Linked DNA regions of Homo sapiens. The protein of the gene in region 1 purifies or fractionates together with the protein of each later gene. This does not show direct contact. Each region holds a gene or a part of one and is shown in the gene's direction. Other genes may lie near its edges. The genes, in order: SHMT1 and DPYSL5.

The links.
Region 2: the proteins of SHMT1 (region 1) and DPYSL5 purify together in Homo sapiens (affinity purification with mass spectrometry; 2 studies listed by BioGRID and IntAct, with this or other methods). This does not show direct contact.

The regions. Positions count from the first base shown.
Region 1 is NC_000017.11:18,335,431-18,351,663, reverse strand, and holds part of SHMT1 (serine hydroxymethyltransferase, cytosolic), read left to right. Parts: intron 1-3,223; coding exon 3,224-3,339; intron 3,340-4,007; coding exon 4,008-4,168; intron 4,169-10,777; exon of another isoform or gene 10,778-10,850; coding exon 10,851-10,932; intron 10,933-11,408; coding exon 11,409-11,621; intron 11,622-15,988; coding exon 15,989-16,105; intron 16,106-16,233. UniProt on the Homo sapiens protein: Interconversion of serine and glycine.
Region 2 is NC_000002.12:26,917,953-26,934,185, forward strand, and holds part of DPYSL5 (dihydropyrimidinase-related protein 5), read left to right. Parts: intron 1-6,934; coding exon 6,935-7,093; intron 7,094-9,300; coding exon 9,301-9,480; intron 9,481-10,302; coding exon 10,303-10,371; intron 10,372-13,687; coding exon 13,688-13,732; intron 13,733-15,305; coding exon 15,306-15,381; intron 15,382-16,233. UniProt on the Homo sapiens protein: Involved in the negative regulation of dendrite outgrowth.

The DNA.
Region 1 (16,233 bases):
TAGCTGGGACTATAGGCACGTGCCACCACACCCGACTAACTTATTTATTTATTTATTTTTTGTATTTTTAGTAGAGACGGGGTTTCACCGTGTTAGCCAGGCTGGTCTCGATCTCCTGACCTCATGATCCGCCTGCCTCTGTCTCCCAAAGTGTTGGGATTACAGGCGTGAGCCACTGTGCCCAGCCAATTAAAGGGCTCTTTTAAAAGGTAATTATTGGCTGGGCGTGGTGGCTCATGCCTGTAATTCCAGCACTTTAGGAGGCCGAGCTGGGTGGATCATGAGGTCAGGAGATCGAGACCATCCTGGCTAATACGGTGTAAACCCCATCTCTACTAAAAAAAAATACAAAAAAATTAGCCAGGTGTGGTGGCTGGCGCCTGTAGTCCCAGCTACTCGGGAGGCTAAGGCAGGAGAATGGTGTGAACCTGGGAGGTGGAGTTTGCAGTGAGCCGAGATCGCGCCACTGCACTCCAGCCTGGGTGACAGTGAGATTCCGTCTCAAAAAAATAATAAAAATAAAAATAAAAGGTAATTATTACATGTTTTCATTATATTTTGTTAATATAATTTAATATTAATCTACCTTTGGAACATTATTTAAAATCAAAGGCAATATTTGAAAACAATAGGCAAGGCGTGGTGGTTCACACCTGTAATCCCAGCACTTCGGGAGGCTGAGGCAGGTGGATCACCTGAGGTCAGGAGTTTGAGACCAGCCTGGCCAACATGTCGAAACCCTGTCTCTACTAAAAATACAAAAATTAGCTGGGTGTGGAGGTGCGTGCCTGTAATCCCAGCTACTCTGGAGGCTGAGGTAGGAGAATCGCTTGAACTTGGGAGGCGGAGGTTGCAGTGAGCCGAGATCGCACCACTGCACTCCAGCCTGGGAGACAGAGCAAGACTCCATCTCAGAAAAAAAAAAAAGAAAACAGTGTTGACCTAACGTTAATGACTTTGCTTGATACAAACCTAAAAACAAAGTTCTGGGTTTAAAACAAAATGTTATGTATGTGTGAATAAATGAATGACAAGGTCTCGTTGTCTTGCCCAGGCTGGAGTGCAGTGGTGCAATCTCGTCTCATTGCAGCCTCAAACTCTTGGGCTCAAGCAATCCTCCTGCCTCAGCCTCTCTGTAGCTAGGACCACAGGTGCGTGCCACCACACCAGGCTAATTTTTAATAGACATGAGGTCTTGCTGTGTTGCCCAGGCTGGTTTCAAACTCCTGGCCTCAAGCAGTCTTCCCACCTGAGCCTTCCATATTACTAGGATTACAGGTGTGAACAACCACATCTGGCCTATTTATTTTTTATTTATTTATTTATTTATTTTGAGACGGAGTCTCACTCTGTCGCCCAGGCTGGAGCGCAGTGGCACGATCTCGGCTCACTACAAGCTCCACCTCCCGGGTTCACGCCATTCTCCTGCCTCAGCCTCCCGAGTAGCTGGGACTACAGGCGCCCGCCACCACACCCGGCTAATTTTTTATATATTTTTTAGTAGAGACGGGGTTTCACCATGTTAGCCAGGATGGTCTCCATCTCCTGACCTCGTGATCCGCCCGCCTCGGCCTCCGAAAGTGCTGGGATTACAGGCGTGAGCCACCGTGCCCGGCCTATTTTTTATCTATTTTTATTTTTTTGAGACAGAGTTTTGCTCTTGTTGCCCAGGGTGGAGTGCAATGGTACAATCTCGGCTCACCGCAACCTCCGCCTCCCAGGTTCAAGCAATTCTCCTACCTCAGCCTCCTCAATAGCTGGGAATACAGGCGTGCACCACCACGCCTGGCTAATTTTGTATTTTTAGGAGAGATGGGGTTTCTCCATGTTGGTCAGGCTGGTCTCGAACTCCTGACGTCAGGTGATCCGCCCACTTCGGCCTCCCAAAGTGCTGAGATTACAAATGTGAGCCACTACGCCGGGCCCGGCCTATTTATTTTTTTTAGAGTTAGGGTCTCACTGTGTTGCTCCAGCTGTAGTGCAGTGGTACAATCAAAGCTCACTGCAATCTCCAACTCCTGGGTTCAAGTGATCCTCCCACCTCAGCCTTCCAAGTAACTAGGACTATAGGTGCAAGCCACTATACTTAGCTCATTTGTAAAATTTTTTGTAGAGCTGAGATCTCACTATGTTGCCTAGCTGGTCTTGAACTCCTGGCCTCAAGCAGTTCTCCCACCTCAGCCTTCCAAATCTCTGAGATTACAGACATGAGCCACTGCATGTAGTTACTTTAAATTTTTTTTTGAGACTGAGTCTTGCTGGGATGCCCAGGCTGGAGTGCAGTGGGGCGATCTCGGCTCACTGCAACCTCCACCTCCTGGGTTCAAGAGATTCTCCTGCCTCAGCCTCCCGAGCAGCTGGGATTACAGTCACCCGCCACCACTCCCGGCTAATTTTTGTATTTTTAGTAGAGACGGGGTTTCACCATATTGGCCAGGCTGGTCTGGAACTCCTGACCTCAGGTGATCTGCCCACCTCGGCCTCCCAAAGTGCTGGGATTACAGGCGTGAGCCACCATGCCCAGCCTAAGCTTGACTACTTTAGGGACCTCATAAAAGTTGAATCATACAGTGCTTGTCTTGTGGTGACTGGTTTGTTTCACTTAGCATAATGTTCTCAGGCTCATCCCTGTTGTATTAATAGCATGTGATAGGATTTCTTTCCTTTTTTTTTTCTTTTTCTTTTCTTTTTTTTTTTTGAGACAGGGTCCAGGCTGGAGTCCAGTGGCGTGATCACAGCTCACTGCAGCCTTTACCTCCTGGGCCAAAGTGAATCTTCCCTTCTCAGCCTCCCAAGTAGCTGGGACTATGGGCACACACCACAACACCTGGCTAATTTTTTGAAATTTTTTGTAGAGATGGGGATATTGCTGTATTGCCCAGGCTGGTCTCGAACTCCTGGGCTCAAGCAATCCTCCTGCCTTGGCTCCTCAAAGTGCTGGGATTATAGGTATAAGCCACCTCTCCCAGCCAAAACCCCCTCTTTTTATAGATGAGATATTTGCTCCAAGTTGCACAGCTGGTTTGGTCTCTTGACTGTAGATTCCAGAGGCATTGGTGGAACACTTGATCATGCTGGCTTCAGCATCTGCATGTTAACAAGCTCTTCTCATTACTTCTCTCCACTTTAGTTTCACTGTCCCACCCCTAAGCTTCTTTGGCCTCTGTGAAGCACAGACTTTCTGGGTCTGAGTGGATCTAAGTCTCCTGCTCTTCTCCCACAGATACTATGGCGGGACTGAGTTTATTGATGAACTGGAGACCCTCTGTCAGAAGCGAGCCCTGCAGGCCTATAAGCTGGACCCACAGTGCTGGGGGGTCAACGTCCAGCCCTACTCAGGTGCTTGTCTCATCCATATGGCCTGGTGCAGCCTCTTCATGTGCATCCCCCAGGGCCGACATGCACCAAGAAGAGTCCTAAGATGGACTGCCATGGACTGCCATAGGCCGGGCCCAGTGGCTCACGCCTGTAATCCCAGCACTTTGGGAGGCGGAGGCAGGCAGACCACCTGAGGCCGGCAGTTCAAGACCAGCCTGACCAACATGGAGAAACCCGGTCTCCACTAAAAATACAAAAATTAGCTGGGTGTAGTGGCACATGCCTGTAATCCCAGCTACTCGGAGCCTGAGGCAGGAGAATTGCTTGAACCTGGGAGGCGGAGGTTGCAGTGAGCTGCCGAGATGGCGCCATTGCATTCCAGCCTGGGCAACAAGAGCGAAACTCCATCTCAAAAAAAAAAAAAAAAAAAACTGCCATAAATAAAAGATAAGTCACGCATCCCTCTGCATTACCCTTGGGCTCCCAGCTCTATACCCCCTCCCAGGCAGTGCCCTCTCTCTGAACTTCACCTCTCAAGGCTGGTGGTGAAGGGGCACCTCCTGGAGCTCAGGGAAGGTACAAGGCCTGTTCTCGCCACTCCTGGGTGAAGGCTTAGTGGCCAAGGTCCCGGATGCCACTTGGTACCTCAGTTAGAAATAATCATGTCTCCTCTGGTCCACTCGTTTCAGGCTCCCCTGCAAACTTTGCTGTGTACACTGCCCTGGTGGAACCCCATGGGCGCATCATGGGCCTGGACCTTCCGGATGGGGGCCACCTGACCCATGGGTTCATGACAGACAAGAAGAAAATCTCTGCCACGTCCATCTTCTTTGAATCTATGCCCTACAAGGTAAGCATGTGTTTCTCTCCTAGCTTTTATTTCCTTGGGAAACCTCTGATGCTTGGCTGTGCCTGCAGGGGTAAGTTTGGTTTATGTGTCACTACAGGAAGTCCCCACCTCGCACCGTTTTTAATTTCCTTGCAGCGGGGACTCCTCAGGTTTTCAGGACCCGCTGGGGCAGCTGGGATGGAGAGACGAGGGTCTGAGCTGAGGCCACAGGGAAACCAGTGAGGGAGGCAACTACTGAGGAGAGTTCAGATGTGGCAGGGGCAGTGGCAACTGCTTGGAATAGCAACCCTGGGGAATAGCAACCAGGTCACTACAGTTGGACCCCAGCAACAGCCACCACCTCTGCAGCTCTGCCCTCGCCTGGTGACATCTCTGCTCGGAGCCCCTGTGGGCCAGCAGCAGCACAAGGATGCAGTAGCTACAGGCATGGCAACGTCCCCAGCTCCAGCACCAAAACCAGCAGCCCGGCACCATCCACAGCCACAGTCCTCCATGGCCACGTTAGGGCTAGCCCCTGCCTGTGTATAGTGGCTACAGAGGAACAGACAGTGGTTTGACTTAGGGCGTTCAACTTTAGGATAGTGCAAAAGTGACATGCGTTATTAGCTGTACTTCAAGCCCCCCATACGACCATTCTGCTTTTCAGTTTCAGTACAGTATTCAGTAGATTACATGAGATAGTCAACACCGTATTATAAAATAAGGTTTGTGTTTGACTATCTTGCCCAGTGGAGGGTACCACAGTGTCCTCAGCATGTTTAAGGTAGGCCAGACTAGGTTGTGATGTTTGGTAGGTTAGGTATATTACATGCATTTTTGACTTTATGATATTTTCAGCTTAATGATGAGCTTATTGGAATGTAACCCCATAAGTTGAGGAGCACCTGTATGGCTCAGGTGTACACCCCATTGCCATTGCCACCCCACTGCACATACCTGATAACGCAGCCAGCCCAGCAGTGGAACCAACACCATCAGAACCAGTGCCAAGTGCTGCCTCTAGGGTGTGCAGGGCCCCAGGCAAATACTTGTTTTTCGTGGGACCCGTCTGTATAAACAGTTGGGTCAAAAAATGCCTGTAAGATGTGTGGGCTTATTCAGGCATGGTGATTTATCTATAAAAACGAAGGATAATGGGAAGAAGAGGTAACTTGCTTTTTCTTTTAGTGTCCAGTGTTGGTGATTCTTTCTAGTGTCCCGGAACCATCTTTTCATGTTCTTTATTAATAAATGTGCCATTCCTGCTTAGTTTCATGTTTGTTACCATGAAAAAAGGTAGCACTGCATCCTTCTGCTTGGCTGGCATTGCATGGTCTTGGGTGCATGCTGTCCATGGTTCTGTGTGTACTCAGCCTTTGTCTCAGTGCTGGTGATTGCACGTGTGCTCTTTTTTGCAGTCATTTCTTTTCACAGAACACCTAGGTGTTTGCAGTCACAGATCTCCTCATTGGCCAAGGCCAGCCTTGAAGCTAGATTTTGAAACATGTCACAATAGTAACAAAATAGTTTGTCTTGGCTGGGCTCGGTGGCTCACACCTGTAATCACAGCACTTTGGGAAGCTGAGGTGGGCAGATCACCTGAGGTCAGGAGTTCGAGACCAGCCTGGCCAACATGTTCAAACCCTGTCTCTACTAAAAATACAAAAAATTCCTCAGGTGTGGTGGTGCACACCCGTAGTTCCAGCTACTCAGGAGGCTGAGGAGGGATAATTGCTTGAACCTGGGAGGCGGAGGTTGCAGTGAGCCAAGATTGCTCCATTGCACTCCAGAGTGGGCGACAAGAGTGAAACTCCATCTCAAAAAAAATAAATAAATAAGAAAGGCAGGGTGCAGTTGCTCACGCTTGTAATCCCAGCACTTTGGGAGGCTGAGGCAGGCGGATCATGAGGTCAGGAGTTCAAGACCAGCCTGGCCAACACAGTGAAACCCCGTCTCTACTAAAAATACATGGTGGTGCACTCCTGTAATCCCAGCACTTTGGGAGGTCGAAGTGGGCGGATCATCCGAGGTCAGGAGTTCGAGACCAGCCTGGCCAACATGGTGAAAGCCTTCTCTACTAAAAATACAGAAATTAACTGGACGTGGTGGCGGGCACCTGTAATCCCAGCTACTCAGGAGGCTGAGGCAGGAGAACCACTTGAACCTGGGAGGCGGAGGTTGCAGTGAGCCAAGATTGCACCAGTGCACTCCAGCCTAGGTGACAGAGCAAGACTCCATCTCCAGAAAAAAAAAGAAAGAATCTGCGTCCCGCACCCAGTTCCCTCCAGCCACCCCCGTCTTTGATGTACATTGTGCAGGCTGCAGTCCTGTGGGTGCAGTGAGGGGACCCACCTCAGGATGGGCATGGAGAGGTGGGGCCTGGGACCCTGGCCAGCTTGGGCAGCAGGAGGTGCAGCTCACCCGCTGTGGGGGTGATTTGAGTCCTGCCCTTGGCGGACAGGAGGAGGAGACAGACCTTATTGGCATTCATCAGCAGCCAGAGGCAGCTCACCTCCACCCCACCGGGCTGCAGAGTTGGAGGTTAGGGGGTGTCCCAGGGCCACTGCCCTGCCCAGCCTTCACCAGACCGCCTGCCTCCACCTTCAGCCCCTGCCCCACTCCACTGCAAGAGCCCCACGCAGGGCCAGGCTAGAGCAACAGCAACATTAACCTTCTATTTTGTGTTTTTGGCCCATCCCCACTGTGACTCGAGAATTCCTCCCTGTCCCTGGTCCTAAGTGACTGCTGGGGTCTCCTTCCTTATCCTCTGTGCACTGTGGACCCCATCTGCAGTTTATTATAAATGCCTATGAATTCTTCTAGGAGTTGTTCTCTTGTCTCATTTTCAAGATTAAAAAAAGAAAAGAAAAACCTTTGAAAAACCCATTAAATTAAAAAGGGAGAAAGCAGCACAGGCTTTTTTTTTTTTTTTTTTTTTTCCGGTAATTGTGGCTACACAAAAAATTTTAGAATTATGTCCATTTTTTTTAAATCTTTTTTTTTTTCCTTTTTGTGGAGAACAAGATCTCACTATGTTGCCCAGGCGGGTCTCAAACTCCTGGACTCAAGCTATCCTACTGCCTCTGTCTCCCTAAGAGCTGGGATTACAGGCGTGAGCCACCATGCCCGGTGAATTACGTCCATTTTTACTGGAGGTCAGCTGTTGATATTTCATTTCATAAAACGGTTTCTTTGCCAAATTCAGGTGACTGAGAAAGAACCACACCCCTGAAGCAAAACACAGCAAACAAAACCACAAATCATCTTTCAGCTTGACTTTCTAGATGAGGTCTTGGTTCCCGAAACCTTGTGGCAAGCTTCTATAGTTGGGTTGGATTATAACTGCCTTTTTTTATTTGGAAAGAGTGACCACCAATCCTGAAACCTTTCACTCCAGATGTGCTGGTAGTTTCTGAGGGGGACACCAAGGTAAGAGGAAGGAAGGTTGGGTCAGGGCCTTCAGAACAGGGAGCCTCTCTGCACATCTCCTCTTCCCTGAGGCTTCTCAGATCCCAGAGCCCAGTTTTTCCTGTGGTGCGCTCTATGCTCTGCTGGTTATGTGTGCTTACCCATGACTTTTTTTTTTTTTTTTTTTTTAAGACAGTATCTGGCTCTGCCTCCCAGGCTGGAGTGCAGTGGCTCTGTCTCGGCTCACTGCAACCTCTGCCTCCTGGGCTCAAGCGATCTTTCCTCTTCAGCCTCCCAAGTAGCTGGGACTAGAGGCGCATGCCACCATGCCTGGCTAATTTTTGTATTTTTTGTGGAGACAAGGTTTTGCCATGTTGCCCAGGCTGGTCTTGAACTCCTGGGCTCAAGTGATCTGTCCAACTCAGCCTCCCAAAGTGCTGGTATTACAGGCATGAGCCACCGCATCCGGCTGACCCCTTTTTTTTTTTTTTTTTTTTTTTGAGACAAAGTTTCCCTCTTGTCGCCCAGGCTGGAGTGCAGTGGCACGATCTCAGCTTACTGCAACCTCTGCCTCCCGGGTTTAAGCGATTCTCCTCCCTCAGCTTCCTGAATCGCTAGGACTGCAGGTGTGTACCACCATGCCTGGCTAATTTTGTGTTTTTAGTAGAGGTGGGGTTTCACCATGTTGGCTAGGCTGGTCTCAAACTCCTGACCTCAGGTGATCTGACCCCCTCGGCCTCCCAAAGTGCTGAGATTACAGATGTGAGCCACCACGCCTGGCTGACCCATATGTTTATAGAAGTTTAATAAAATGAACTTCCTAAGAGATGTGTTGCCAGAAAAGAAAAATTATTTTAAATTTTACATCGAGATCTACAATCTGTTTGGAATTGACTTTTTTTTTTAAACAAATTATATATAATTATGGGATGCACAGTGATGTTATGATTTGTATATACAGTGTGGAACTATTGAATCAAGTTAACTAACATATCCCACTCCTTAAATATTTATTATTTTTCTTCCTGTCTAACTGCAACTTTGTACCCTTTGCTCAGTATCTCTCCATTGTCTGCCACCCTCCAGTGACTGGTAACCACATTCTACCCTGCTTCTGTGAGTTTGATTGTTTTATTTATTTATTTATTTATTCAATTTTAATTTTTTTTTTTTGAGACAGAGTCTCACTTTGTCGCCCAGGCTGGAGTGCAGTGGCACCATCTTGACTCACTGCAACCTCCGCCTCCTGGGTTCAAGTGATTCTCCTGCCTCAGCCTCCCGAATAGCTGGGATTACAGGCATACGCCACCACGCCTGGCTAATTTGTGAATGTTTAGTAGAGACGGGGTTTCACCATGTTGGCCAGGCTGGTCTCAAACTCCTGTCCTCAGGTGGTCCACCTGCCTCGGCCTCCCAAAGTGCTGGAACTGCAGGCATAAGCCACCACGCCCAGCAGTTCGATTGTTTTAGATTTCACATAGAAGTAAGATCACATGGCCAGGTGCGGTGGCTCACACCTATAATCTCAGCACTTTGGGAGGTCGAGGTAGGAGGCTCACTTGAGTCCAGGAGTTCGAGACCAGCCTGGGCAACATGGTGAAACCCCATCTCTACAAAAATATAAGAATTAGCCGGGTGTGGTGGCACTGCCTGTGGTCCCAGCTATTCAGCAGGCTGAGTGGGAGAATCGCTTGAGCCTGGGAGGTAGAGGTTGCAATGAGCCGAGATGGCACCACCGCACTCCAGCCTGGGTGACAGAGTGAGACTCTGTCTCAAAAAAGAAGTGAGATCATGCAGTATTTGTCTGTCTGAGCCTGGCGTATTTCACTTAGCATAAGGTCCTCCAAGTTCATCGGTGTTGTTGCAAATGACAGAATTTCTTTTTTCAGACTGATTATTATTACATTGTTTATATATATATGTGTCACATTTCCTTTGTCCATTCATCTGTTGATGGACATGGCTTTATTCCATAACTTGGCTATTGTGAATAGTGCTGCAGTGAACATGGGAGTGCACATGTCTCTTTGACATACTGATTTCAAGTTCTTAAGATATAGATTCACAAGTGGGATTGCTGAATATGGAATTGATTTGTGTGGGTGAGGCGGGCATCCAGATAACATTTTTGTCCAAATGGATGCCCAGTTGACCTAGTGCCATTGATTGAAAAGGTCATCCTCTCCCCACTGCACTGCAGCGTCACCACTGGCATGGATCCAATGACCTGTGTTGTGTGTGGTTCTGCTTCTGGTTAAGCCAGATGCTCTGCCCTTCCATGAATGCGTGCTGCCTTAATTACTATAATTTGTCAAGCATTTTGTGACACAAAATACACAACGCAATGATGTTTTGTGTAAAGGTTTGGTATGATTTTCCTTTTATGGTTTTTGTTATTTACATTTCATTTTCTATCTTTCTTGCTTTTATATACTTTTTGGCTTTTTTTTTTTTTTTTTTTCAGATGGAGTCTCGCTCTGTTGCCCAGGCTGGAGTGCTGGAGTGCAGTGGCACAATCTCGGCTCACTGCAAGCTCCACCTCCCGGGTTCACGCCATTCTCCTGCCTCAGCCTCCCAAGTAGCTGGGATTACAGGCGCCCGCCACCATATCTGGCTAATTTTTTGCATTTTTAGTAGAGACGGGGTTTCACCGTGTTAGCCAGGATGGTCTCGATCTCCTGACCTCATGATCTGCCCGTCTCAGCCTCCCAAAGTGCTGGGATTACAGGTGTGAGCCACCGCGCCCAGCCCCTACTTCTTGTTTTTCAATGTTGTATCCAGTGACCTTGCTAAATTTGCTTATTCTAACAGTTGGCCCCTAGCATCTTGATTTTCTAGGTATATTGTGTTGTCTGTGTGTAATGTCAGTTTTTAAATTTCTTCTTTCCTAATCGTTATGCCTTTTGTTTCTTTTTCTTGCCTCATTATACTTGGAATAGAAGTAGTATTAGCAGGCATTTTGGTCTTGTTCCTGAAGGTAACCATTTTGGTTTCCATTGTGTGGTCCCGTCACATTTGTTTCATTCTGCAGGTGCTTTTTGGTTCCTTCTCAGCAGGTAGTGCCCCAGCAGCAGGGCTCACTACAACCCTGGGACTCCTCAGGGACTCCTGGGTCTGTGAGCCATACTTGGTTGAGCAGGCTGAACACACCAGTATCCATCCTGTCTCACCCTCAAGTCCTCATCTAGGACATCATTCCTCTTGTCATGGTGGGTGGAGCCAGTTCAAGTGGGAGGACAGGAGGCAGGTGTGGTTGGAGGAAGCAGCCTGAACCTGCCTCCCTGACATTCCACAGGTGAACCCAGATACTGGCTACATCAACTATGACCAGCTGGAGGAGAACGCACGCCTCTTCCACCCGAAGCTGATCATCGCAGGTGATGCGCGGGGCGGAAAGTCACCTTGTTCACCAGTAGCCTGGTGCCTCTTACAGAATGAGGATGGAAAGATGTTCGCACCCTGTTGAGCCCACTGCTAGTTTCTGCCCTGGATAACTGAGTTTCTGGGGTCTACATATATTAGTTTCTTTCAGGATACAGATGTGTGTTTGCTGCTTTTTGTGCTATGTAGATTAAGATGTGAGACTGTTCTCAGAGAAGCATCTAGAAATGTCAGGCCCTGACTGCGCTGGCAATAGTAGTTGGGGCCATCTCAACCACCAAGACGTTGAAGAGTTAGAGTGGTTGCCTTTAGCACAGAGGTGCTTTTTGAGGGCATTCTCCATTTTTGCTCTGAGACTTTAAGGGAAGAAATCTCTGGGCTTTCAGATCTGCACATCTAGAGGCCACTGTGAAGCCAACTCAGCTGGCCGGTGGACATCTCTGATGCAGCTGTGTCACCTTTCCTGTCTCAGGAACCAGCTGCTACTCCCGAAACCTGGAATATGCCCGGCTACGGAAGATTGCAGATGAGAACGGGGCGTATCTCATGGCGGACATGGCTCACATCAGCGGGCTGGTGGCGGCTGGCGTGGTGCCCTCCCCATTTGAACACTGCCATGTGGTGACCACCACCACTCACAAGACCCTGCGAGGCTGCCGAGCTGGCATGATCTTCTACAGGAAAGGTGAGCTCCCGAATGTTGGGTACAGATGGGTACCATGGTTTACATTTCTCCTGTGGGGGTTCAGATTCAGTTGAGGGAGCTGGGAAAAACTCTGACCTGGGATCCTTGGAAAATATTAAGATCCCAGTCCCTTAAAGAGCTGCTTAGGAAGGAGCAGTGACAGGCTTTACAGAAAGGATTCCCGGCCAGGTGAGGTGGCTCGCGCCTGTAATCCCAGCACTTTGGGAGGCCGAAGCGGGCAGATCACGAGGTCAGGAGATCAAGACCATCCTGGCTAACACGGTGAAACCCCGTCTCTACTAAAAACACGAAAAATTAGCCGAGTGTGGTGGTGGGCACCTGTAGTCCCAGCTACTCAGGAGGCGAAGGCAGGAGAATGGCGTGAGCCTGGGAGGTGGAGCTTGCAGTGAGCTGAGATTGTGCCACTGTACTCCAGCCTGGGCGACAGAGCGAGATGCCGTCTCAAAAAAAAAAAAAGAAAGAAAGAAAGGAATCCCCAGAAGGAGACTGTCAGCCACAGCTCCTGCTTCACTTTTGTGCATCCAGGTCCTAGGAACATAGGAGGGGGATCAGCAACCACTATGTGTTAGGATGGCGCCGGTTGCTGAACTCGAGAGGCAGGTGTTTGAATGAAAGGAGGGTGCATGGCTGGCTGGGGGCCACTGGGAGGCCTCACAAGGCTGCATTATTCTGGTGAACTTACAGTGATCCATCATGTTTCTCAAAGAGAAAGACTCATAGTAGTCAAACTAGAAGACATGGATGTATAAACATTAATATCATTTTAGTGAAGGTTTTTCTTTCCATTACCTCATAACCTACCCCTAGGCACTCCCCTTATTTTCGAATTCCCATACCTGGGAAAGCCTGTTAGTGGTCAGGTCATCATTTAGCCTGTGGTGAGACCTGATGCGCCAACTTTGCATCAGCAGAGACACCAGCCCTCTGGTGACTACATTACTCTTTTTTTTTTTTTTTTTTTTTTTTTTTTTTAGTATTTATTGATCATTCTTGGGTGTTTCTCGTGGAGGGGGATTTGGCAGGGTCATAGGACAATAGTGGAGGGAAGGTCAGCAGATAAACAAGTGAACAAGGGTCTCTGGTTTTCCTAGGCAGAGGACCCTGCGGCTTTCCGCAGTGTTTGTGTCCCTGGGTACTTGAGATTAGGGAGTGGTGATGACTCTTAATGAGCATGCCGCCTTCAAGCATCTGTTTAACAAAGCACATCTTGCACCACCCTTAATCCATTTAACCCTGAGTGGACACAGCACATGTTTCAGAGAGCACGGGGTTGGGGGTAAGGTTATAGATTAACAGAAGAATTTTTCTTAGTACAGAACAAAATGGAATCTCCTATGTCTACTTCTTTCTACACAGACACAGCAACAATCTGATTTCTCTATCTTTTCCCCACATTTCCCCCTTTTCTATTCGACAAAACCGCCATCGTCATCATGGCCTGTTCTCAATGAGCTGTTGGGTACACCTCCCAGACGGGGTGGCGGCTGGGCAGAGGGGCTCCTCACTTCCCAGAAGGGGCGGCCGGGCAGAGGGGCTCCTCACTTCCCAGAAGGGGCGGCCGGGCAGAGGCGCCCCCCCACCTCCTGGAAGGGGTGACGGCCAGGCGGGGGCTGCCCCCCACCTCCCTCCCGGACGGGGCGGCTGGCTGGGCGGGGGCTGCCCCCAACCTGCCGGACAGGGCAGCTGCCGGGCAGAGATGCTCCTCACTTCCCAGACGGGGCGACTGCCAGGCGGAGGGGCTCCTCACTTCTCAGATGGGGCAGCCGGGCAGAGACCCTCCTCACCTCCCAGACGGGGTTGCAGCCGGGCAGAGGTGCTCCTCACATCCCAGACGGGGCGGCGGGGCAGAGGCGCTCCCCACATCTCAGATGATGGGCGGCCGGGCAGAGACGCTCCTCACTTCCTAGACGGGATGGCGGCCGGGAAGAGGCGCTCCTCACTTCCCAGACTGGGCAGCCAGGCAGAGGGGCTCCTCACATCCCAGATGATGAGCGGCCAGGCAGAGACGCTCCTCACTTCCCAGACGGGGTGGCGGCCAGGCAGAGGCTGCAATCTCGGCACTTTGGGAGGCCAAGGCAGGCGGCTGGGAGGTGGAGGTTGTAGCGAGCCGAGATCACACCACTGCACTCCAGCCTGGGCAACATTGAGCACTGAGTGAACGAGACTCCGTCTGCAATCCCGGCACCTCGGGAGGCCGAGGCTGGCAGATGACTCGCGGTTAGGAGCTGGAGACCAGCCCGGCCAACACAGCAAAACCCCGTCTCCACCAAAAAAATACGAAAACCAGTCAGGCGTGGCGGCACGTGCCTGCAATCCCAGGCACTCGGCAGGCTGAGGCAGGAGAATCAGGCAGGGAGGTTGCAGTGAGCCGAGATGGCGGCAGTACAGTCCAGCTTCGGCTCGGCATCAGAGGGAGACCGTGGAAAGGGAGAGGGAGACCGTGGGGAGAGGGAGGGGGAGGGGGAGGGAGAGGGAGAGGGCTGTTCGACTACATTACTCTTACCCGAGGCAGGGTCTTCTTGCCCAGCCCCTGGCTGGGACTAGACACAGCCACATGCCCCCTCAGCTTCTCAGCACCCCGTTGCCTCTGTGCTCCTCCAAGGACCGTTTTTAGCTGTGCTGATGTTTCTGAGGCAGGTAGCCATTCCCACCCGCCCAGGAGACATTTGGTTTTTTCCCCCACTGTGTGTTGATGTGATTTATTTCACCCAGTGCTGAGGGACTCCGGAGCCAGCCTATCAGAGCAAGTACTAGCTCTGCCGCACACCCGCTGTATGACTTTAGGGCTAGCTGTGCAGCCTCTCTGTTCCTCATTTCCTCACCTCTAGAGTGGGGACTATAATAATAGTACCTGTCCCTTTGGACTGCTGTTTTGAGGATTAAATGAATTTATGTAAAGTGATTAGAGCAGTTCTTGGCTCACTAGAAGCTCTAGATAGATGTTACCGATTATGACTGAATAGTAGCTATTATTGATGGTTAACTTTTTCTCAGAAAGGAACCTTATTCTTCATATTAGCCACATGAGCGTTGTCTCTTTCAATGCATCTTGGAGACTCTTTAAATTTTATTTTTGGGGACAGGGTCTCACTCTGTCACTCAGGCTGCAGTGCAGTGGTGCAATCAAAGCTCACTGCAACTTCAACTTCCCGGGCCCAAGCAATCCTCCTACCTCACCCTCCCACGTAGCTGGGACCACAGGTATGCGCCACCATGCCTGGCTAATTTTTAAATTTTTCTGTGGACATGGGTTCTCTCTTTGTTGCTCATGCTGGTCTTGAACTCCTGGGTTCAAGTGATCCTCCCACCTCTGCCTCCCAAAGTGCTGGGATTACATGGACTTTTTTTTTCCCCGGAGATGGAGTTTTGCTCTTGTCGCCCAGGCTGGAGTGCAGTGGTGCAATCTCGGCTCGCTACAACCTCCACCTCCCGGGTTCAACGCATTCTCCTGCTTCAGCCTCCTGAGTAGCTGGAATTACAGATGCCCGCCACCATGCCCAGCTAATTTTTGTATTATTAGTAGAGACAGGGTTTCACTATGTTGACCCAGCTGGTCTTGAACTCCTGACCTTAATTGATCCACCTGCCTCAGCCTCCCAAAGTGCTGGGATTACACGCATGAACCACCACGCCCAGCCACATGGACATTTCTTTAAGGAAAGATGTCCAGGGCAAATTCTTGAATTCTTGGTTACAATGTTAGTGGAGGGAAATTTCTGTCCTTTTTTTTTCTTTTTTTCTTTTTGAGACAGAATGTCACTCTGTCACCCAGGCTGGAGTGCACTGGCGCGATCTTGGCTCACTGCAACCTCTGCCTCCCGGGTTCAAGCGATTCTTCTGCCTCAGCCTCCCAAGTAGCTGGGACTACAGGTGCACACCACCACGCCCGGCTAATTTTTGTATTTTTAGTAGAGACGGGGTTTCACCATGTTGGCCAGACTAGTCCCAAACTCCTGACCTCGTGATCCGCCCGCCTTGGCCTCCCAAAGTGCTGGGATTACAGGTGTGAGCCACCGCGTCCAGCCTGTCCTTTCATTTTTAAGGCCTTGTTCTAGTTGTGTTAAGAAGAGATGCCATCAGAGGAGGCAGGTGGACAGGTGAGGTGCTGAAACCAGTATTCCAGCCAGAGTCATCCATGATGTGTTGGTTTCCAAAAAATAAAGATACTGGTCTGCCCTCAGGAGGCAAGGGTCCCCTCTGCTCCGCTGTGTTACAAATCAGTTCTCCATGCCAGGATAAAGGCCAGGCTTGTGCTTGATTCTTCCCTGGCCAGTCTGGGTTTGAGCCTAAAAAGAAAAAGAGGGGACAGCCCCTATGATCCCACTGTGATGTTTTTCTTCCTCCAGGAGTGAAAAGTGTGGATCCCAAGACTGGCAAAGAGATTCTGTACAACCTGGAGTCTCTTATCAATTCTGCTGTGTTCCCTGGCCTGCAGGGAGGTCCCCACAACCACGCCATTGCTGGTAAAACATCATCTGCCTCTGCTCATCCTGTAGCCCCTAATTCCCATCCCACCTGTCCTCCAAAATCGTGTGCCAGGACTTCCACGCTGGGGAAAAAGCTGGAGGGCTGTCTCTGTGCAGGAGATGCT
Region 2 (16,233 bases), on another chromosome or scaffold:
TGGTGAAATCCCGTCTTTACTAAAAATACAAAAAATAAGCCAGGCATGATGGCACACGCCTGTAGTTCCAGCTACTTGGGAGGCTGGGGCACGAGAATCTCTTGAACCTGGGAGGCGGAGGTTTCAGTAGCTGAGATCATGCCACTGCACTCCAGCCTGGGTGACAGAGCAAGAGTCTGTCTCAAAAAAAAAAAAAAAAAAAAAAAAAAAGCAAGTGCAGAGCCCTTCTAAATGTAGGGCCTTGTGCAGCTGCATGGGCGACATGCCCATGGAGCTGGGTGGGCCTGGACAGTGGGCTTGTGATTTGAATGGGAAAGGTGTTTCCTGCGTGCCAGGCATGGTTCCAGGTACCATACATGCATCACCTCACTTGATGAAATGCTTGGACCCTTTTTGGGGGTTGTTCACATCCCATGGTGATGTTCAGAGCTTGCTTTCCAGAGGGCCAATAAGTAGCCAACAGAACGCTGAAGGTGAAGGAGGTTACCATGAGCAATAGAGAAACTACCGAGCTGGTTATTTTTTTTTTTTCCTCTGGTACTTCGGGAGGATGTGAATAAAAGATGGAAGATAATTTTAATGTGAAAAGAAAAGGAAGTGGTTCAGCAATCCCAAGAGAGGCAGATCCATCCGAACAAATGATAGCTTTTCCAGCAGCATTAAGAGCTGCAGACATGTTTGCACTGTGCTTACCAGTTTACAGAGCACATCCACTCGTCATTTGATTCTTAGTGCAGTATTGTTCCCTCTATAAAGATTCAGTTGGCCTTAATCTATATACATACCAGTAATAGTAGATCCTGCTTTTCTGATTCCAGTCACCTCCTCAAACATACACCCCTTTTCCATGCATATTTTCGTATGAAGATATGCTCTAGGAAGTCTCTCCCCTTCCTCAATGAAAAATTCCATGAATTGGCTGTAGCCCAAGTGCCTTCTCAATAGCAGAGCGCAAAGTTTGTGCCTTGACCAGGTTCTTGGCCTTGAAGCAAGAGAACCAAATCTTGTGGGCAGGGTTGCTGGGGAGCAATTGCTACAGGAAATTCAGCAAAACATATTGGAGCGGCAGGGCAGTCCTGTAGAAGATGGTAAGAGAGTGAATCTTCAAAGGTCTTTGTCCTGATAAAGCTGGAAGTGACCAACGCATTGTTCTCTCCAATGCCGTGATGTCAGCAAATAAATCTTATCTGAAGGGCCACAAGTATCTGAAATGTCTTTCCAACTTGCTGAGCAGGACCCTGGTCAATATGGAGACCCCCATGAGCCCCACGGTGGTCTGATGAACTTCTGAAGTATAAAGATGGTGTTTATAAAAGGTTTAGACTGAGTTCTAGTACAGGTTCCTGCGCCTTGCCAAGTGTATGCCTGGAAACTGTGTCATAAAATGGATTACCATTAAATATACTGAGTTTTCTTAGGGAACAAATGAGCATCAAATAAATCCAGCTTTACCCAGTAGTATGTTATAAATGTCAAAAACAAAATAATAGCGACACTTTGAAATTGTAAAATGATGTTTCATATTCTTCCAAATAATATACAATGGTGCAGTGTCTGTTGGTTAAACAAATGATCCTAATGTCTCTGTTAATTTAATAGTGAGAGATGTCAGGATAAAAACAAATTTCCACCTATACAATGGGAAATGCTTGGCTGGACAGATTTTTTTAAACATTTATATTTTTAAAAATAAGGGCTTGGGTTGATAAATGGGCACTTTTGGTCAGCCACCAGGCTCAAGGAGGCTGTTGTGAGATCGGCTGTTCCATGATCAGGTCTGGAATAGTTGGAGATGAGGATGTTCTACAAAGCTGCAATTCTGCTTCCTGGCAGTGTCCACCTAGAATGAGGTCTCTGCTCATATGCGTTCAAGAATGCTCAAGCACTGTGTGAAGTTGTAAATGTCCATGAACTTGGAAATGCATTCATACATGGAGGCATGTTTATACAATGAATCAATTAAAAGGAATGAAATAAATCTACATAAATAAATCTTAAAGATAATATTGAGTACATGAAAGCAAGTTGCAAAAGAATATAGACAGTATGATAGATATTATTTGTATAATTTTTTTAATTGTATAAATTTTGTATAAATTTTTAAATGTTATGTGTTTACATAGTAAAAGCATAAAAACATAGATGAGAGGAATGTATGCCATCTTCAGGGAAGAGAGGGATGGGAATAGGATGGAGGGCTTTAGTTGTATCAGAAATATTTCATTTCTTTTTTTTTAAAAAAAAGCATCTGAGGTAAACATGGCAAAAATGTTAACATCTGTTAAGTTTGAGTAGTGGAAATATGGGTATATGTTTTATTATTTTCTGTATTTTACTCTGTTTGAAATATTTCATAACTTTAAAATATTTTAAACACATTAAGAATGGCTAAAATTTTAAATACTGCAGTTTTAACTTCCTCCAAATTTATTCTGAAGTGTACATTATAAAACTCATATATTCTGTTAAATTTTGGAGAAGTAGAAAAAATAAATTCCTCAGAATCTCATCACTCAAAAATAACCATTGTTGGCCAGGCGTGGTGGCTCACGTCGATAACCGCAGCATTTTGGGAGACTGAGGCATGCAGATCACTTGAGGTCAAGAGGTCAAGACCAGTCTGGCCAACATGGTGAAACACCATCTGTACTGAAAATACAAAATTAACCGGGCATTATGGCAGGTGCCTGTAATCTCAGCTACTCAGGAGGCTGAGGCAGGAGAATCACTTGAACTCGGGAGGCGGAGGTTGCAGTGAGCCAAGATTGCACCACTGCACTCCAGCCTGGGCCACAGAGCAAGACTGTGTCTCAAACAAACAAACCATTGTTAATATTTTGGTCTATTTCCTTGCATTTTTATTTCTTGTGTGGGGAGTATGTGTGTTTAAACATGGTTCCAAGCATTTTGAATCAAGTCTTTTTCACTCATTACAGTATAAAACTTTTTCCGTGTTTTGACAGCCTTCGTGAACATCATTTTTTTAAATATAAAGTTTCACATTTAATTTGGTCATGAATTCATAAATACATAAGTATTTTGTACACCATGTGCTTCCTTGTATTGTTTGTATTATAACACATTTTAAATAGGGACCTTTGACAGGGCAGAAGCATGAAAGGACACCAACCACGAGCAACACACTATACTATGGCTGTCCTGTGTCACATGCTATTTGGCCCGGGGATATAGCAAAACCTAACGTAACTAAACAAAAAAAACCCCAATTATTTCATGTTGTCAGGAAGCTTACCTTAAAAGAATAGCTCGGCCTGGCGTGGTGGCTCACGCCTGTAATCCCAGCACTTTGGGAGGTCGAGGTGGATCACCTGAGGTCAGGAGTTCGAGACCAGCCTGACCAACATGGTGAAACCCCGTCTCTAGTGAACATCATTTTTATTGGCTTCCATTAAAGATCTTCTGCAGCGTACTTAACCAACACCATTTTTTGTGTAAAAAGTCATGAGCATTCAGCAATCACATGTTCTTAAACATCATCCTTTTGAAAGCCTCGGGAACACAATTGGGCTGTGCCTTGCTGCCGATTTCTACAAGGCTGTTTTGTGGGGGATGACACTAAAAAGGTCTGTCACATCTGTGATACCACTTTCCTGTGAAAACAGAGCTTGTCAGCATTCATCCTGTGGGTTGGAATGGTACATATTCAAAAAGCCAACTCTATGTATGTCTTGCCTAAGAGGAAACAAGTGCTTGAACATCAGTGTGTGGTGTGGGCTTGCGAGCCTGCAGCTGGGGGAGAGTTTGCTGATCCAGTGAAACTCTTGTTTCGAGGCCTTGGGGTAACAGCGGTAATAATTATTCCAGATACTTATGTGCATGCCCCTCCCAGCTCATAGATGCTCTCACATCCATTGCCACCTGACCCTCTGGGGACCCCTGAGAAGTAAGGTGCAGGTCAGGGGGCACGTGGCTGCTCCTAGATTACAACCAACACGTGGGAAAGTCAAGACCACCTCCTATGCTTCCAACTCCTTCCTGAACTATTTTCAGTTCCTGTCCTTAGACCCAGGCAAAAGGGGCCTCTTCCCAGGGCTCTGGACTTTAGGGTCCTCTTCGGGCCCTCCAACAACTTGTACCCCTGCCCCATAGGTCTGGGGATTGTGTCTACCCAGACCCCACTCACCCATTCCTAAACTACACTCTGGGTCCCTAGAATTCCCTGAGAAACAGCCCTGAGCATTCCAGAGCCTACAAAACCCCGAATCTCTCCTCCTGGGGGACAGACCACCAATGTGTGCATACCAGGCTCAAGGACAGCATTTTTGCAGAAGGTGGACAGAGCTTAGGTCTGCAGGCTGCAGGATCAATTCAGGATAGGCGCGTGTGGGCTGGGGGCAGGCACAGAGGCTGAGGCCAACTATCCCTGAAGTGTAGCTCAGAATTTTAAGGAACTTGAGGATTCTAAGGGCCAGGCCCTTTTGGCCTTTATGAAGATGTATTTGACAGAGTAGGAGGATAGAGTATATTCTGTGTAATGGTTTTTTAGCTTGATCTAACTTTTGAGTGTTTAGAGAATCAGCACATGATCCTCCTTTTCTCCTCTTGCCCTGGGACCCACAGTATGAGGACTGGTCCTGGCTCTTTTATCTCACTGTGCTGTTTCCAGGTTCCTCTTTTCCTATCCAAGCCTGCAGAGGTACTGTGGGAGTGCAAAGGAAAGCAATCTAGAGCCACAGAAAAATGAAACAATTTAGTGTGTAAAGCTCAATATACACCCCCACGTGCACATGTAAAAGCAAGAGATGCATTTCAGGACAAAATAGAGTACAACCACCTGCTGTGAGGATGAATCAGCCTGGCACGATCCAGCAAAATCGGAAATAGAAGCCTGCTAGTAAAGCTACAATCTGCACTGCTCTCCTTCTCCCGGTTCCTCTGCCGCCCCCATCACAGCTCCTGCAGGTGCCACAGAACTACCACCCTCTGTTGGTTGCTTTAAGCTGTGCAAGCAGTCAAACCACTGAGTTCCCCAGGACGACTGGGAACATTCTCGCTGGCCCAGCCTGCGTCATGGAACATCAAGGTTGTGAGAGTTTTCATTTTAATTGCTGTTGGGCCACTGAGCTAATTTTTTTTCAGTCCCTTATTCCCCAGCAATATTTTTCATTTGTGATCAAGGATTTAACTGAATAGAGAAGCATGAAACCATTAAGACAATTTCATGGAGCTCTTTTTCTCCCCTACAGAAAACAGATAAACACCTAAATTCTGGCTGGGTGCAGTGGTTCATGCCTGCAGTCCCAGCACTTTGCGAGGCCAAGGTGGGAGGATCACTTGAGCCCAGGAGTTTGAGGCTGCAGTGTGCTATGATTGCACCACTGTACTCCAGCCTGGGCAACAGAGTGAGACCCAGTCTCAAACAAAAACAAAAACCTAAGTTCTGAGTAACTAAACACACATGTTAGGACAACACTTTTACCACATCTGTTCCATAAGCAATGTTTTACTTAACCTTCACAACTACCCAACAAGGAAGCCACCCTATTGTGTAGGTAAAGACTTTGCATCCAGAGAAGTTAAGTAACCTGGCAGAGGTTATTCCAACCATGAGGGAGCAGAGCAGGGACTTGAACGTGGAGCCGTGAAGCACTGTAAGGACTCAAACCATTTCTCACCAGAAAAAGAGTCACTTTGTCTTAGAGCCCTCACAAAGACTCTCATGTTATGGGACTCTCAATTATTTAATTTAATTAATTTATTTATTTTGAGACAGTTTCACCCTTGTTGCCCAGGCTGGAGTGCAATGCCGCATTCTTGGCTCACTGCGACCTCCACCTCCCAGGTTCAAGCAATTCTCCTGCCTCAGCCTCCCAAGTAGTTGTGATTACAGGCACCCACCATCACACCCAGCTAATTTCTGTATTTTTGTAGAGACGGGGCTTCACCATGTTGGCCAGGCTCATCTTGAACTCTTGACCTCAAGTGATCCACCCACCTCAGCCTCCCAAAGTACTAGGATTACAGGTGTGAGCCACTGCACCCACTCTCACTTATTTTAATTCTATTTTAAGTTTTGTTTGGGAACAACACATTAGCCTGAAATAGCCTTTGATCGATGCTAGTTTTGGAACTTCACAGAAGTCCCCTGATGAAATTCACTTTTAAAAAGTTGAGTGGGGGAATCTCTAATACAGATTTAGTCATTTTTCCTGGGGGTTCACTCTATGATTGCGAGTGAGGCTTTTTAACAATTTCTTTTTAAAGTGGTATCTTGCGGAGTTGTGAATAGGATCCGTTTTCACTGATAAATCACACATGCATCTAAAAAATGCCTGTCTCAAACAAGATAGATGAAAATGAAGCCCCTATGCTTAGAAAAACTGAAGACAAAGACCCTGAGGTTGAAGATGCGTGCAAAATGTTTGAACAAAATTGCTTCATGAAATTTGAGAGCATAAAACAAAACAATATATCCAAATTAACATTTTCTATATCGTGGTTCAAATATACGTGTGTAACTAAGTAAATGATATAAACAGACATTTGATTATGCCATCAATATTATGTTATTATATGATACAACACTATATTATGTTATATATTACATGCAGACATTTGATCATGTTATCTATAGAGTCAATTGGCTAAAAATCGTTTGGGGAGAGAATCTCCTCATTGGGAAGATAGGCCTTAGGTCGGGTGACCCACGATGTGGTTTTTCCAGCGCGCCAAGCTGAAACCCTGGCGGAGGAAGAAGCAGGTTTGGGGACCCGTGGTCATGATGAAGGTCGCGCTGGCTCTCGCACCTCCACATGGCTCTTTACAGTTTCCCAAACCTCGCTGCCCTTGGTCCTCACAGCCTCTTGTGAGGCAGGGCCTGTCTTTGAATGGACCATGAGGACCATGTCTCACCACATCATTGACTCGGGGGCAGGCAGGGCTGTGACGAGACTGCCTTTTCCCGTCTTCCCAGGCAGCACTCGTCGGAGGCACCACCATGATCATCGGCCACGTCCTGCCCGACAAGGAGACCTCCCTTGTGGACGCTTATGAGAAGTGCCGAGGTCTGGCCGACCCCAAGGTCTGCTGTGATTACGCCCTCCACGTGGGGATCACCTGGTGGGCACCCAAGGTAACAGTGCTGGTGGGATCCCAGAAGAAGGCACAAGTGGTCTTGTAGGCAGAGGGGCTGGTTGGGGTGCAGTGCCTCCTGCTTGTGTGGGGCACCCCTCCCACTACCATCCTAGCTCCCCACAATGCCAAAAGAAAACACACTTGGGATTCCATAAGGGGAGCGGATGGGCTTGTGCTGCTTAACTTAATGAGCCATTTTCCGGCAGGCACAGAGAGGCCAAGGCCAGAGCCCAGGCCTTGGGGATGCAGTTTCATTGCTCTGACCATGAGGCTCTTACCGTCTCGTGTGAATGTAGGGCACCACTGACAGGTCATGGGCAGTGCTGCTGAGAAGAGGCCTGAGCAGGGCTCAGGTGCAGAGGGTCATATCCCATATCCTATGTGTACTGAGAGTCCACCACACTGCGCTGAGGTCTCCGAACTGAGGCTCCCATCCTGCCTCAGTACTGTCTGGAATGAAAGGAATGTGGTATGCTTTTTTCCTACTGGGGGCCCAGCTTCTGCTCTGAGAAGCATCGAGGCTGTCCTGGTCTGTGACTGAGGCTGGCACCCCCTGAGCCTTTCTCAGTTCAGCCTCTGTGCCTCCTTTGTGTCTGTGCCCCTGGCCTCTGGCTTTCCTGTCCTCCCCCTGCCCAGGCCCCAGGGTCAGAGTCCAGACTCCTCTCCCCGGATTCCCACTTCCTTGCTCTTCCTAATCTACAGGCATTTCGATTTGGCTTTGTTTCTGGGGTTTTTCTGCTTTTTTGCCCAGGGTAGCAGTCTGGATATTCATTCTTTCATCAATTATTTATTAAGCCCCATGTACCAGTACTTTGGTGGGTGCCCCAGAATCATAAAAATAATAAGCATTATTAGTTTTACCAACTCAGGAACTGCCTCTTCATTTTCCGTCAAAAACCCACTTGTAACTGCTGCTAATCAGAGTGTATATTCAGGGCAGCTTGAATCTGTGCTCCCAGGTGGACATCCTCAAGCTTTGAGCTCGAATAAACTCTGTTCTTAATCATAAAAAGAAAAAAGAAGTTTTATGAAGTTCTTCAGTTGCAGGCCCTGGTATAAAGGGCCTAACACCCTTCTCAGATGATAACCTAAAGCCTCACTATATTTCTGCCCTCGGGTCTTAGCCTTGAGCTGGGGGCTCACCCGGTTTCTTCATTATTTCTGACCTGGCACTTATAGAAGACCTCCTCCCGGTTCTGGGCCAGAGGTGCAGATCACGCTGAATGTCAGCCATTCCTTATCTCAAATGGGGGTCTCCTTTTTGGACACTCTCCTGGGTGAGAGGCCTCTACCTCTGAGCCACTCTCTACTTCCCCTGGAGCTGGCCTAGAATAGAGGGTCTTCTCAGGTTCCCAGCAGCACAGAAGCCAGGCCAACCCTCCCTAATTTCCTGGAGCTTATGGTGACTTTCATGCATCAGGAATTTAAAATTCTGTTTTATAATAATCAAATAAATGTTTCTAATTATAGATGTGAAAAATAGAAAAGAAAGGAAGTACATAATCCAGTAACCCCCAGCACCATCCCTGCTGTTAAACTTCTTTCTTTCCCATCTTTTTTCATCCATGCTTTCACAGAGTAGCTATTTTGCATAGGTGTGAGCATTTTCTATTTTGCCATGAAGTTCATGAACCAGCAATATAATGGCCACTTAATATTCTACCAAGTGGATGAACCTGAACTTATTTTCCTGTTATCAGGCCAATGTTGCTTCCATGTTTTTCCTAGTACAAATAATGTTAGGAATATCCTAACTCTCATAACTTTGTTCATGTTTAGCTTTGTTCCTAAATTTGGTTTTCCCAGGACCTCTGGATTTTTAGCATTAGTATGCCTTCTTTGTAATGCCAGGCAACAGCCCACAGAAATTAAAATCATTATTCCTATGTTTACCATTAAGGCTGGTTTGGAGACAGACATAGGGGACAGGCCTAAGTGATAGGAGAAACGTGCCTATAAGGTAACAATGTGGCTCCTAAACTGTGTCGTGTTGACAATTTTCACAGTACTTCCGCATCCATCTACTCAGGTGGCCTCACAGCAGCCTGTGGGGTGGGAGGAAAGTGAGATAGAGAGGTGTGGGGGGTCAACCGACAGACTGAGCTGGGGCAGGCCCCACATCTCCCCCATGCTGGGCCGGTGCCTGCCAGTCGGCCTCTTGGGTGTCTGCCCTCACGCAGCATTGCCCTTCTACTTGTTCTCCAGGTGAAAGCAGAAATGGAGACACTGGTGAGGGAGAAGGGTGTCAACTCGTTCCAGATGTTCATGACCTACAAGGACCTGTACATGCTTCGAGACAGTGAGCTGTACCAAGTGTTGCACGCTTGCAAGGACATTGGGGCAATCGCCCGCGTCCATGCTGAAAATGGGGAGCTTGTGGCCGAGGCAAGTCTGCAGCCAAGAATATTGGATGGAGGGACACCAGTGGAGACAGTTAGTTCTCAGGGGATTCCTGACCACCCGTCACTGATCCCACAGGATTCAGACAAAATCAGTTGTTAAAGTGTGAGGTGTGGACACCCCAGCTGTCAGATCTTGGTCAGAAAATCCAAACTTTACTACTGTCTGTAAAAAACAAATCTCTTTTTATGGTTCAAAAAGGCTTCTAAGTCGTAGGTGATGATGTCTTAATTCTAATGATATGAGATTTAAATTCCATTATAGCAGAGAATTTGGAGCACCTCTCAGACATATTTTTAATGAGATTTGATATACAGAATAAATAAGAATCCGCTTCCCATTTGGCCTCTTCAGAGGATCTGAGACATTAAAGAGATCTATTCATGGCACCAGGAAGGATAAGCCTCTGGTGCATTCTCCTAGGTCTTGGGGTAAGGGCTAGCCTAGCAGTTGCTGGAAGCTAGAGCTTAGTCTCGATTTCCAGAGAGGGAATTCTGAGTTTGAAATCAGTAAAGAGTGCTTGTCTTTGGTGTCCCAGGCCTGTTGCTAGTTATAATACTTAACTGTATTTTTAAGAGAACAAGATATGTTCAGTCATTATGAAGTGAGAATCAGGAGAGCCCCACTGCATGGGCGGCCTGTGCATGCTCTGCCTTCTTTAGAAGACGAACACTGCAGAAGTGAGAAAAGAAGCAAGCCTATTGAAACAGGCGGTGTCTAGCATATTTCACTGTCCCTTGGGTTCAGTATTTTCTTACACGGTGTCTCTGTGATTCTCTCCATTTTCTTTCTCTTGCTGTTATCCAGGGTGCTAAGGAGGCACTGGATTTGGGGATCACAGGCCCAGAAGGAATCGAGATCAGCCGTCCAGAGGAGGTGAGAAACACTTCCTGTAGCCTTTGTCAGCGTCTCTCATGTAGATTGACAGAATCTTCCAGGATGGAGGAGACATCAAACATACAAATTAGCCAGGCACAAGGGCTCATGTCTGTAATCCCAACATTTGGGAGGCTGAGGTGGGTGGATGGCTTGAACCCAGGAATTTAAGACCAGCCTGGGCAACATGGTGAAACTCCGTCTCTACTAAAAATACAAAAAAAATTAGCTGGGCATAGTGGTGCATGCCTGTAGTCCCAGCTAACTACTTGGGAGGCTGAGGCAGGAGGATCACCTGAGCCCAGGAGGTTGAGGCTGCAGTGAGCCGTGATGATGCCACTGCAATCCAGCCAAGGTGATAGAGTATATATATATATATATACACACACACACATACATATATATACGCACACACACGCACACACATACGTGTGTGCGTGTGTGTGTGTGTGTATAGCATCATTTTCTCCACGGGTGAAATTTCCATTTGATTCTGATTTCAAGGATCTAGGGGAGACAATGTCAGCACACCTGGGGTTGCTGTGCCCAAAACTGAATCAAGAGACAAAAGACAGACTGAAAAGGCCTTCAGGTGTTAGAAGAAATTTCAAACTATAAACTCTGCCTTTGGGGGATGACATTCCTTTGAGCATCTGAGGAATACTTTGGACCAGGGGTCACCAACCCCCAGGTCATGAACCGGTACAGGACCGCAGAGCAGGAGGTGAGCAGCGGGCCAGCTGAGAGCCCCCTGGGCTCCACCTCCTGTCTGATCAGTGGTGGCCTTAGATTCTCATAGAAGTGTGAAGCCTATTGTGAACTGCACATGCGAGGGATCTAGGTTGCACGCTCCTTATGAGAATCTAACTAATGCCTGATGATCTGAGGTGGAACAGTTTCTTTCTTTATTTTATTTTATTTATTTTGAGATGGAGTCTCGCTCTTGTTGCCCAGGCTGTAGTGCAATGGCGCAATCTCGGCTCACTGCAACCTCTGCATCCCGGGTTCAAGCCATTCTCCTGCCTCAGCCTCCCAAGTAGTTGGAATTACAGGCATGCACCGCCACACCCAGCTAATTTTGTATGTTTAGTAGAGACGGGGTTTCACCATGCTGGTCAGGCTGGTTTCGAACTCCTGACCTCAAGTGATCCACCCACCTCAGCCTCCCAAAGTGCTGGGATTACAGGCGTGAGCCACCGTGCCCAGTCCTGAGGTGGAACAGTTTCATCCTGAAACCATCCCTCCCCATTTCCCACCACCACTGCCCCATCCCTGTCCTGGTCTGTGGAAAAATCGTGTTCCACGAAACCGGTCCCTGGTGCCAAAATGGTTGGGGACTGCCGCTTTGGACCCTTTCCACCAAAAACAGGAGACACATACAAGTCTATGCTCCTCCCCCTCATTACCTGCTGAGATGGTCATTCAAAGCTGTTTTCCGCCTGCCCTCTGGCTTTATCCCTGTGCACAGTTTTGCATGGCATTGACACAAATCCCCTACAGTCCCCCTGCTAAAGAATTCTGCTCTAGAGGGACCACATTAGACGAATAACGCATTCCTGCCCTATTACCCTGTTTACACATTCTCTACTGTTTTAGAAGAGGGGGAGAAACTTCTCATTTCTTCAAAGCCTAAAAATGCAGATGGGTGGTTGGTTATCCATGAGGGATTGAGGGGGAGGCCTCGAGGGACAAGGAGCAGGACACAGGATGTGGTGGCACTGCCATTACCCAGAAACCAAGTTGGCCCACGAGTGGGTCCGCTGAGGAGTGCCCCCTCACTGCCCTGATCAGTGCCTGTGTTTCAGAGCCCTTGAATATAGGTCCTGTTTGGCACTTCTGAATTGGTAGAGAAACACACACCAGATTCGACTGAAACACAGAGGGTATGCCTGTGAGAACAGGAGAGAGCAAGGGGTGGACACACACACTAGACTTTCTTTGTTACTTAATACAAGGGAAAGAGCAAGGCTTTGGCTGTGGTCGTAATACCAATAATTATCACCGCCATTATCTATTGGTTAAAGGTGGGAGGGCCCTGGGTCTATGCCAGGGGAGATGTTGCTCCCCAGGGGAAATTTGACAATATCTAGAGATATTTTTGCTTGTCCCAACCTGGGGGGCAGGGCGGATGCTACAGGCATCTAGCGAGCAGAAGCCAGTGATACTGCTAAACATCCCACAATGCGCAGACACCCCCACCATAAAGAATTACGCAACTCGGCTGGGTGCAGTGGCTCACACCTGTAATCCCAGCACTGGGAGGCTGCGGCAGGAGGATTGCTTGAGCCCAGGAGTTTATGACCAGCCTGGGCAATAAAGGGAGACCCCCTCCATCTCTGCAAAAACTTTTTAAAAATTAGCCAAGCATGGGCCGGGCATGGTGGCTCACACCTGTAATCCCAGCACTTTGGGAGGCCAAGGCAGGCAGATCACGAGGTCAGGAGATCGAGACCATCCTGGCTAACATGGTGAAATCCTGTCTCTACTAAAAATACAAAAAATTAGTCGGGCATGGTGGTGGGCGCCTGTAGTCCCAGCTACGCGGGAGGCTGGGGCAGGAGAATGGTGTGAACCCAGGAGGCGGAGCTTGCAGTGAGCCAAGATTGCGCCACTGCACTCCAGCCTGGGCGACAGAGCAAGACTCCGTCTGGGAAAAAAAAAAAAAATTAGCCAAGCATGGTAGCGCATGCCTGTAGTCCCAGCTGCTCAGGAGTCTGAGGTGGGAGGATCGCTTGAGCCCTAGAGGTGGAGGCTGCAGTGGGCCATGATCATGCCACTGCACTCCAGCCTGGGAGACAGAGTGAGACCCTATCTAAAAAAAAAAAAAAAATATATATATATATATATGTGTGTGTGTGTGTGTGTGTGTGTGTGTGTGTGTATATATATATATATATATATATATATGAATTATACAACTCAAATGCCAATAGTACCATGCGCAGAAACCCTAATCTAGGCTAATTTCCGGAGTCAAATCAGCCACTATTTCTCCTTTGCTGCAGTTCTGAGGTGGCTATGGAGAGAATACACCAGAAAACAAGGAGAGACATGACCTTGGGTTTTTATTTACTTTTGTTTCCTTGCCTTTTAATTAAGCCCCAAGTAGCATCCAGCAAGGGCGTGCCTGGTATTGTAAGACCTAGAATTCTCCCTCACTGTGAGCCAAGGTAGTTGGAGGTTAGTGCCTCTGCCCGGGCTTTGCCCCGAGCCAACCCCTATGGGTGCAGTTGCTCCATGAAGGGGAGAGTATGGTGTGGGTATCCTTGGAGGAGATGGTGAAGTTTGGTTTCCTCCTGTCCTTTGTTTCTAACAGCTGGAAGCTGAAGCCACTCATCGTGTTATCACCATTGCAAACAGGGTAAGTCCCCCGATGTCCACTGTGGGATTAGAAACCAACCTTGGCCAGGCACGGTGCTGATGTCTGTAATCCCAGCACTTTGGGAGGCCGAGGTGCGTGGATCACCTGAGGTTAAGAGTTTGAGACCAGCCTGGCCAACATGGTGAAACCCCATTGCTACTAAAAATACAAAAATTAGCTGGGCGTGGTGGCGTGCACCTGTAATCCCAGCTACTCAGGAGGCTGAGGCAGGAGAATTGCTTGAACCCAGGAGGCGGAGGTTGCAGTGAGCCAAGATCGTGCCAACTGCAATCTGTCCTGGGTGACTGAGCGAGACTCTGTCAAAAAAAAAAAAAAAAAAAGAAAGAAAAGAAAAGAAAGAAAGGAAAGAAAGAAAGAAAGAAAGAAAGAAAGAAAGAAAAGAAAAAAGAAAGAGAAAGAAAGAAAAGAAAAAAGAAAGAGAAAGAAAGAAAGAGAAAGAAAGAAAGAAAGAAAGAAAGAAAGAAAGAAAGAAAGAAAGAAAGAAAGAAAGAAAGAAAGAAAGAAAAGAAAGAAAGAAAGAAAGAAAGAAAACCAACCTCTACGATGCAGCCCCATTCTGCTCTGGGTGCCAGCACCATGTCTTGCCCACAGGAACCCAGAGCTGTTTGCTGACTGAGCGCTGTCATGCCCACCATCCTTGCATTCACCCTTCTCACCACCAGCTTTCCATTCCACCCCGCCGAGCCTGCTGAAGCTCAGTTCATTGCTCACGTGTAAACTCAGTCCAGCTCCTAAACTCTACATCCTCCTAATGTGATAAGCAAAGAGAACAGAATAACATCTGGGGAAACAGAATTTCCCAATTGCACTTTAGAGCTCTGGCCGCTGGACAAGGACATTGTTTCACTGTCATGACAATAGTTATTTATCAATTACTTCCTGGTGGAACTTAACCCAGAATAAGGAAAGACCCAAACAACAAAAAGTCAGTTCCTTGCCTTTTAGCTCAAGCATATGCTCAGAGGAGTTAAGCCATGGACCGTGGTTGCACAGCTTAGTAGAGAAAAAGCTAACCAGTATTACAGTCCAGGTGTCCGTTCGCAAGGTCAGCCTTCTCTTGCCTAGACTCTGAACCCTAACCCCCTTGTATTTTGTTCATCTCCAGGGTGCATTCTGTCTACTGATAAGCAGCCTTCAGACAGCAGGCATCGTAATTTTAGATACAGAATACACGACTAACTCTAGGTCATCACGTTTATGAACAGGAAATTAAAATAGGAAAAAGAGTTCCCCCCTTTTAAATTACAGTCATGGTTGTCAGATGGGAGAAAATGCGAGGTTCAGACTTGACGGTCTTGAACTTCACAGGCTGGGCTTCCCGGTGGGCTCTGGTGCTGGAGGCTGTTCTCTGCCTCCCCGTATCATGCAGTTCCTGCAACCTTGCCCTGACTGCCAGCCCTGCATTCTCCGCTTAAGGACTGTCACCTTGAGGGTGGGGTTGAGTGACGCAGGGGGAGGCGCTGGTGCCAGGGCTGACTTTGCCAGGGTTATTCTGATGCTTGTGAAGTTTATGGGTCAACCCTCCCTACTTCCCACTGTTTCTTGTGTTTAGACTCACTGTCCAATCTACCTGGTCAACGTGTCCAGTATCTCGGCTGGTGACGTTATCGCAGCTGCTAAGATGCAAGGTGAGTCCATAGACTTGGCTGGACAGAGCAGGTCAAGTGGAGGGACTGGAGATGGATGGGGCCCATTAGCCGTGCTCACTCCTGGCCCCGGCTCCTGAAACCAGGACCTGAGCCAGCCCTTCCCTTTCATCTGCCACCGTCTTCCTCAGAGCTGCCCTGTGCTATGCTGGCTTTAGTCTGCTAGAACATGAGCTTTTTCTTCTGCAAATTTGTATGCATAACAGCTTTACGGAAGTGTCTGTCACTTCTCCTGGGTCTGGTAACATTTTCCAAGTTTTAAACCCACTCATTAATTAGTGTCTTTTTGGCCTCATAGATTTTACTAGCAGTTGCCTTGGCAACTAACATAAAATGCTGGACCAGTTTCAGTGGGCATTTCAGGGGCTGTTTGGGAAGTCCCTAAAGAAAGAACAGTGTGTGGGCCCAGCTTCCTTTTAGCCTCCTGGAACCCTGTGTATGAGTCCGAGGGGCACTTGTATGGCTTCTGTTGCGGATCGCCTGGCAGTACCTAAAGGCTTGCAGATGCTTGGAGTCCAGCCCCGCCCCAGGTGCTGGTGAGGGCCTGGCAGCAGGAGAAACAAAGTCACAGTCACAAGCCTGGGGAGACAGATCAGAAGCAAGGGCATCTCAGCCTTCAACTATAATCGATCAGAAGCAAGGGCATCCTGGCCTTCAACTCTATCGCCCTCTAGATCCCGCCACCTGCCTCTCCCCTCACTGAAGCCCCTTGGAGGGTCTCGCCTAGACTGTCGTCCCAGCCTGGTGACTGCTCCCACCTCCTGTCTCCCTGTCCTCCAGCCCTGCTACGGCCCTCCCTGTCCTACCACAACCGTTCTCTTGAAGCTGCTCACA